2 linked regions of the Homo sapiens genome follow. The protein of the gene in region 1 purifies or fractionates together with the protein of each later gene. This does not show direct contact. Each region holds a gene or a part of one and is shown on either strand. Other genes may lie near its edges.

The links. Proteins that work in one complex are often made in the same cells at the same time.
Region 2: the proteins of OR10H3 (region 1) and CYB5A purify together in Homo sapiens (affinity purification with mass spectrometry, with the first as the bait; one large-scale study listed by BioGRID). This does not show direct contact.

The regions. Positions count from the first base shown.
Region 1 is NC_000019.10:15,736,763-15,740,784, reverse strand, and holds the start of OR10H3 (olfactory receptor 10H3), read right to left. Parts: upstream 2,801-4,022; 5' UTR 2,734-2,800; intron 1-2,733. UniProt on the Homo sapiens protein: Odorant receptor.
Region 2 is NC_000018.10:74,285,464-74,288,963, forward strand, and holds part of CYB5A (cytochrome b5), read right to left. Parts: intron 1-3,500.

The DNA.
Region 1 (4,022 bases):
TGGAATTTAAGGAAACAATGATCGCAAGGTCTCTAATACAATACACCTCTACAGGGAAGTAGAGTTCCTTAACACATGGCTGATCTGTGGTCTGGACATGGAAGAAAGCCTTGGACATCTTCTACCAGTGTAAAATGAAATTTTCACTAAGTAATGGGATAATATTAAAAGCCTGCAGGTACCAGATTGAAAAGATGCCCACTAGTCAAAAACAATAATCATTGTACAGAAGATGGAGGAACAAGCTAAATTATATAATGAGAAAGCTTTCAGAAAAATCCAGAAGGTGGATAATTCCACAGAACAATTGGTCTGGTTTCACTGATAGAGGTATATTGAAAGGATAAGAGAGATTCCAGGACATAGTAACTGGATGCAACATAGGGGACTAGTTGAATCTTGATCTACATAACCAGCTGTAAGTATTTTAAGGCAATAGAGAACATTTTGATTACAGTATGAATGAATGATTACGTATGAGTAATATTAAAGCATTATTATTGATCTAATTGTGAATTTTTTAGAGACAAGGTCTCACTCTGCCCCCTAGGTTACAGTGCAGTAGTAGGATCATGACTCACTGCATCCTGGAACTCCTGGGCTCAAGTTATGCTTCTTCTCAGTCTCCTAAATAGCTGGACTACAGATGTGTGCCACCTCACCTGTCTAATTAAACATTTTTTTTTTTTTTTTGTAGAGACAGGGCTTTGCTTTGTTGCCCAAACTGGTCTCTAATTCCTGGCCTCAAGCAATCTTCCTGTCTCAGCCTCCCAAAGTGGTGGGATTATACACATGAGCCACCATGCTCAGCTAATTATTTTTGTAAGTGTTATCTGGTTATTTTGACTATGAAGGTAAATGTTTAGTTTTTCAATGCATACCAAGATTTTTACATCTCACACACACACACATGCACACACACTAAGGGACAGAGAATAACATTTATACCCATTAAAAGAACATAGCAAACAGCATCAATACTATAAATCCATGTAACTATATATCCTGGAATATTCATTAACAAATAATCAATACAACTTCAGTGAGATAGATAGAAATAGCCAAATCGACGGCAGATTGATTATTTTTTTTTTGAGACGGAGTCTTGCTCTGTCACCCAGGCTGGAGTGCAATGGTTCAATCTCGGCTCACTGCAACCTCCCCTTCCCAGGTTCAACTGATTCTCCTGCCTCAGCCTCCCTAATAGCTGGGATTACAGGCGCGTGCCACCACGCCTGGCTAATTTTTGTATTTTTAGTAGAGGCAGGGTTTCACCATGTTGGCCAGGCTGGTCTCAAACTTCTGACCTCAGGTGATCCGCCCACCTCAGCCTCCCAAAGTGCTGGGATTACAGGTGTGAGCCACCACACCTGGCAGATAGATTATTATAGTTAGAAATTTTAACAGAGTTCAGAAATGCAATTTATTAATTATTAATTACAAAGCAATTAATAATATCCAGACATTAGCTATTATATATATTAGACTCTTCACCAAAAAGAAAATTAACACTCTTTCAACCACTCAGCGACTTTTACAAAAATGGACATTTCATTAGAATATAAAAATTTATTTAATTCCAAAGCATAATAATATGATATAGATTATAATGAATTAACATTAAAAATCAATAGGGAAGAAATAGCTTTACAAATCTCATGTGTTTGGAAGATAACTATATAATTAAATAATCTACAGTTTCAACAGTAAATCATAAAATGGAGGAATATTTAGAATTAAATGATAATTTAAATATTGAATGTCAACATTTTAACCTAAAATAGTACTTTGAAGGAAATATACAGCTCAAAATACCTTTATCAAAAAACTGCCTCAAGAAAAAAATCATGCATAATAAAATCAAAATCAAGTTATTGGAAAAAATTAATAAGATAAACAAGGAGAAGGTACCAATAACAGAACCCAAAATTACAAATGGGAAATAATTACAGAGATAATTGATATTTTTAAATTAATAAAAATAGTAAAAGAAATAACAAATTTACATTGTAGATGAAATGAACAAGTACTTAGAAAAATATAAAATTCCAAAACTGGTGCAAGAAAAAAGGGGATGCTATATGCTCAAATAAGCTTTAAAGAAATTGAAACGGTAGTCAAAGATCGTCTCTCTAAAATCTTTGCCCCAGTGGGTTTTATTAAAGTGCGGTAAGTACTATTAAACTGTTAAAAAAAAAAACAGTTGGTTAGAATCTTACACATGATCTTCAAAAAAATAGAAAAGAGTTAGGAAATCTGACAAACACATCTCCTCAAGTTAATGCAATCTTTGTCTAAAATCAGGCAAGAATCTTCACCGAGAAAAAGAGACAATTATAGGCCTACTTCACCTATCCAGGCAGATTTAAAATTCCAGAATAAAACATAACCTATTCAAATCTAATGGTGTATTAAAAATAGTTTACCATGATCAAGTGGCATTGGTTTATTCCATAAATGACAAGATTGGTTAACATCAGAAAACCTATCATACAATTTATCACAGGAATCGATTTAAAAAGAAAAATCATGATTATTTCAATCAAGGCATAAATACATTCTCTAAAACCCTACTCCTATTATGATTTAAAAAAAAACACTTCACAACACAAAATCCAAGGAGACTTTCTTAACTAGATATAGAATATATAGCACAAATTAGCAAATACAACACTGAAGAAGAAACTTTTCCATGCATCACTTTAGAGTCAAGAAAAAGCCAAGGATACTCACTAATTCCGCTGTTCTTTAACATGGAGCTGAAATTCGTGAGTGATGGTATAAGGTAAGGGAAAGAAACAAGTTATCTAAGGTATCTAAGGACTGGAAGGGAAGAGACGTGATCATCTACCTAGAAAAGATGAAAGAATGATGACATCATGTATTAGAACAGCAACAGAGCCCAGTGATGCAGAAGGCAAGGTCAGCTGGCAAAAACCCCAGTGATCCTCCTAGTATCACACCAGTAACAAGCATTCAAGAAGTATAATCTGAATACAGAGAAAGAGAACAGTCCCAATAGCAACACAAACTATTAATATAAAGAAACATCGCTCAGGATCCCTTTACACCTCAAAGTTACTAAGCACTCTAAAGGGCTTTTGTTTATGTGGTTTAGAACTATCCATTTTTACCATATTGGAAATGAAAATTGAAAATTATTAAAAATATTTAGTTATTAGTATATTTAAAAAAGCATGCCCAGGCACGGTGGCTCACGCCTGTAATCCCAGCACCTTGGGAGGCCGAAGTTTGTGGATCACTTGAGGTCAGGAGTTTGAGACCAGCCTGGCCAACATGGTGAAACCAGGTCTCTACAAAAAATACAAAAATTAGCTGGGCATGGGGGCACGCGCCTGTAATCCCATCCACTTGGGAGGCTGAGCCAGAGAATCACTTGAACCCGGGAGGCGGAGATTGCAGTGAGCCGAGATCATGCCACCGCACTCCAGCCTGGGCAACAGAGTGAGACTTCGTCTCAAAAAAAAATTTCTAAAGAGCAATAGTAAGTCTATTGAATGCTAATATGGGAAACATTTTCAGGCAAATAATCACATTAGGAAAAAAGCATTTCATGAGAAGAGTGGCCTTGTTTGACATTTTAGCCAATACCTCATATGTCCTAGCTTGGCAGGAAACAGCTTGATGGTTTCATCTGCCTCTTCATTCAGTCTGTGGCAATATATTGAAGCATATGATGAAAATATATTCTCACATGTAAATTTGAAAAATAAGGATTTCAGGGACCACTCTGCAGAGGTCCTCATGTCACACTTTGAAAAAATCTGCTATAAAATATCTAGGAATTAACCAAAAACATGACATAGCTCCAAAGAAAAAATTTTAAATACATACTAATAAAAATGTAGAAGATGATCTGAACACATGGGGAGCAGTATAGAGTCTTGGCTGGGATGGCCTGATGTGCTAATGGTGTCAATTCATCCTCAAATTATAACCTCAATACTTAATAATACTCAATAATATAATATTGTATTATATTTACAATTCCAGTGAATCAA
Region 2 (3,500 bases), on another chromosome or scaffold:
AGTACACAGCCAAATTCAGGAAGGGAGGTGAATGAGGCGCAACCAAGTTCCTCCACTCCTAAGAACCGAGAAATGCACACACTGGTGTGCCACCCCAGGGTGCTCTGGTAACATCCATCAAAATTTAGAGTGGCTCATGCCTGTAATCCCAGCACTCTGGGAGGCCAAAGGGGGCAGATCACTTGAGCCTAGGAGTTCGAGACCAGCCTGGGCAACAAGAGACTACATTTCTACAAAAAATACAAAAATTAGCTGGGCATGGTGGCTCATGCCTGTGGTCCCAGCTATTCCAGAGGGAGGACTGGTTGAGCCCAGGAGGTCAAGGCTGCAGTGAGCTGAGATCACACCACGGCCTGGGCAACACAGCAAGACCCCATCTCAAAAAAAAAAAAAAAAAAAAAAGTAGAAGTGTACATCCTTTCACCCAAGAATCCCACTTACAAAGATCTACCATAAGGAGGTAATTGCAGGTGGGAACCTAAAAACATGGAAGGAAAGAGGATTCCGTATATTAGGATCCCTCTATACAATAAGGAGGCAGCCTGGGAACAGGAGTTACTGAAATTCAGGACTGGTCCCTCAACACCTAGTTTAGTGGGGAAAAAGGGAGATTACAGAGCAGCATGCAGAGCACATTTCCATGGATGTAAAGCACATCCACGAGCAAGGTGTTGTAGTAGTGAGTGTGCAAACTGCTCAAGCTGGCCACCTTCGGGGAGCAGAGCTCCAGGCAGCTTTGAGTTTCTTCTTTGCAGTTTTCCACACTGTCCACTTCCTTAACATGATCATGTATTATTTTCCCCTTACACAATAAAGTTGTATGTTTAAAAGCTCCTGAAATGGGATGATTTCCAATCTTGCAAAGCACACATTCCTGAACAATTATATTTCATGTGAATATTTGTATTTTGAGTCATTTTGTTTACTAGTTAACACTATAATTCCTGAGATATGTTCCTACTAAATGGACCTTCCACATAAAAACAATTTATTTTAAAATTTTAATTCAATCAAAATATAGTCACTTAAATGCCTTCTCTACATATTTTTTCCAGTGTTCTCACATATATCATTTCTCCCAATGCAGATGGCAGTGACAGAATAGTTCCCACTTCAGAACAAGGAAAGTGACTGAAAGAAATACCTGACTTGCCCAAGGTCACCTCCATGATATGTCTAAGACCAGGTCTAGTTTTCCTAACCCCAGCCCAGTGCTTTCCCATGAATGCCCAGCGGGACAGGGTTGTTCAGACTCCACTCAACTACAAAGGCACTTATCAGCCATCTTCACCAGGAGGACTTTTCAGAATACCAGACATTCACATTCAGTAAAATTGTGCATGTTATTTATTCCTTGATTGACCAAAGCCGGCTTGCATGTGTTTTCCCTTCCTTATTTACAATTTTCATCAACCTTTAAGATAATCAAAAAGCAAAAGTTAATTTGCTGTTTCTTTACTGTTTTCTTTACTGTTTCAAAACAAAGTTGCCTCTTGGAACCTCTTTTCAAAAGTAGCAACAGGTTACCAAAAAATATAGAGATATATATAGAAATATACAAAAGCCTCACGGGTTCACATTCCCCAGGTGGCCTTCTAAGATGTGGTTTTACTACCACTTTACCCAAGATGCCTAAGCCACCAACACTACCAACAATAACTTTATATTTCCCTTCTACAGACTCTGTAATTTCTAAGTTTTATTTACCTAACGGTATATATTAAATAATAATAATGTTCCCATTTTACATGCATCAAAGGCATATTTGCCAACTGCAGCCTTTAGTAGCATGAGATTCAGAATACTATCAAATTTTCTTGCAAAAAGCAAAGGCATTTAGTATTTTAGCCCTAAATATGGTAGCTTTAACAAGGGTAAAGATACGTGTTCTATGTTTTTCAAAATTAAGGGCAATGAATTTCAGCACCCATACTCTCTTCCTCGATTCCCAAGCCTTAGAACCACTGGTCTACGCAACATAGGCAGCCATGTTCAATGGAAAATAACAAAGAGCAAGTCCCTACAATAAAACCTGCTAGAAAGGACACTTTTAAGACTCCAAAAATCAAAGTGAGTCAGGAGCCAATAGCTTCTATGAGGCAGAATGCTGTAAAGAACATTTAAGGCTCAGGTCCAAGACTATCAGAATCCCAGGAACACTAGAAAATGTTCTACAGAAGCAAGTTTCCATTTTTATGATGTAAAGGGAGAGGAGACAACTTCACAAAAAGACATTCTGCTTTATAAAATTTTCCAGGACAGTATCTATTTCACGAATCAAACACCCACTGACTTGAACCAAAAGCAACAGCTAATGGAAGTGTTGTTAATTACAGGATACCTTTCTCTCTCCCCTCCACAGCTCTTTTAAAAACTGAATAGATGCTGCTGCCCAAATCACAGAAAGGGAAATGCAAACATTTCTCCCCCTGGTCCTAAATGCCTAAGTTTTCATTTCAAATAACTGTCCCTTAAAGTTCTATGATCAAGCAAAGACTCAATTTCACAAATATAAACTCAAAAACTAGAACTCAGGATTGAAAAAAAAATCTAGTTCAAAATATGTAGGCAATAAAGCTCAAAATCTTTTAAGTATCAGACAGTAACTAAGCACCTGCTGCTATGTCGACTGCCATTAATAATAAGCCAGTCTTCCCTCTTAGGTTTCTACCCCTCCGCCTAAACAACAAAAACAGCTTTAGTGGCCATTATTTCAGGAGGTCGGAGCACATGCTGCACCTGTGAGCTTCAACCTGTGTTCTTGGCTTGTACCTGCCAGCAGAGCAGGATCCCTCCACCATCTCACCACACACCTTCTCAACATGAACACGGACATGCACATAAATCTAGGACATTCTGAAAGAAGGGGAAATACTCAGCCATGAGAAATCCTGTCCATACGGATGGGGGATCTCACAGTAAACAAAGGTCTAGCCCATAATGACTGAAAGTTCATTTGAGAGTTAGAAGGAGAAGATAAATCTTTCCTATTTAGGTAAATTAGGTGAGATAAAATATTTGTTAGTTAACACACAAAGGCTTCATGAAATTCTGGAGCCTTTCAACAATAGAAGACAGGAAAGAGGATCGGGCAAGCGGGGAAGAGAGACAGAGACATTCTGCACTCATTTCTGTTTTAAAAGTACGTTTCAGACAAACAGACTAGCCTCATAACAAACTACCTGGCAGGGCAGTGTGCTGAAGAGCTCTGAGCGAGTGAGCTTATTGGAGATATAACCCCAGGAGCACAGGAAGTCACCTGCAAGGAATCCTGGCTAGAGTCTCAGATAGAACCCAGAGAGAGGCTCCCAGAGGCTTTGCCGGGGGCTGGGAAGCCAATGACCAGGACATGCAATAAGCAAGAGATGGTCACAGAAAGTCAAAGCAAATAATAAAGACGGCAAATGGAAAAACACGTCCATAAGAGGTCGAATCGGGAGGTGCCCAGAGGTCAGACACAATCCAGTGAAAGGCTAAGTGGCCTTGCTTGTTCCCAGAAC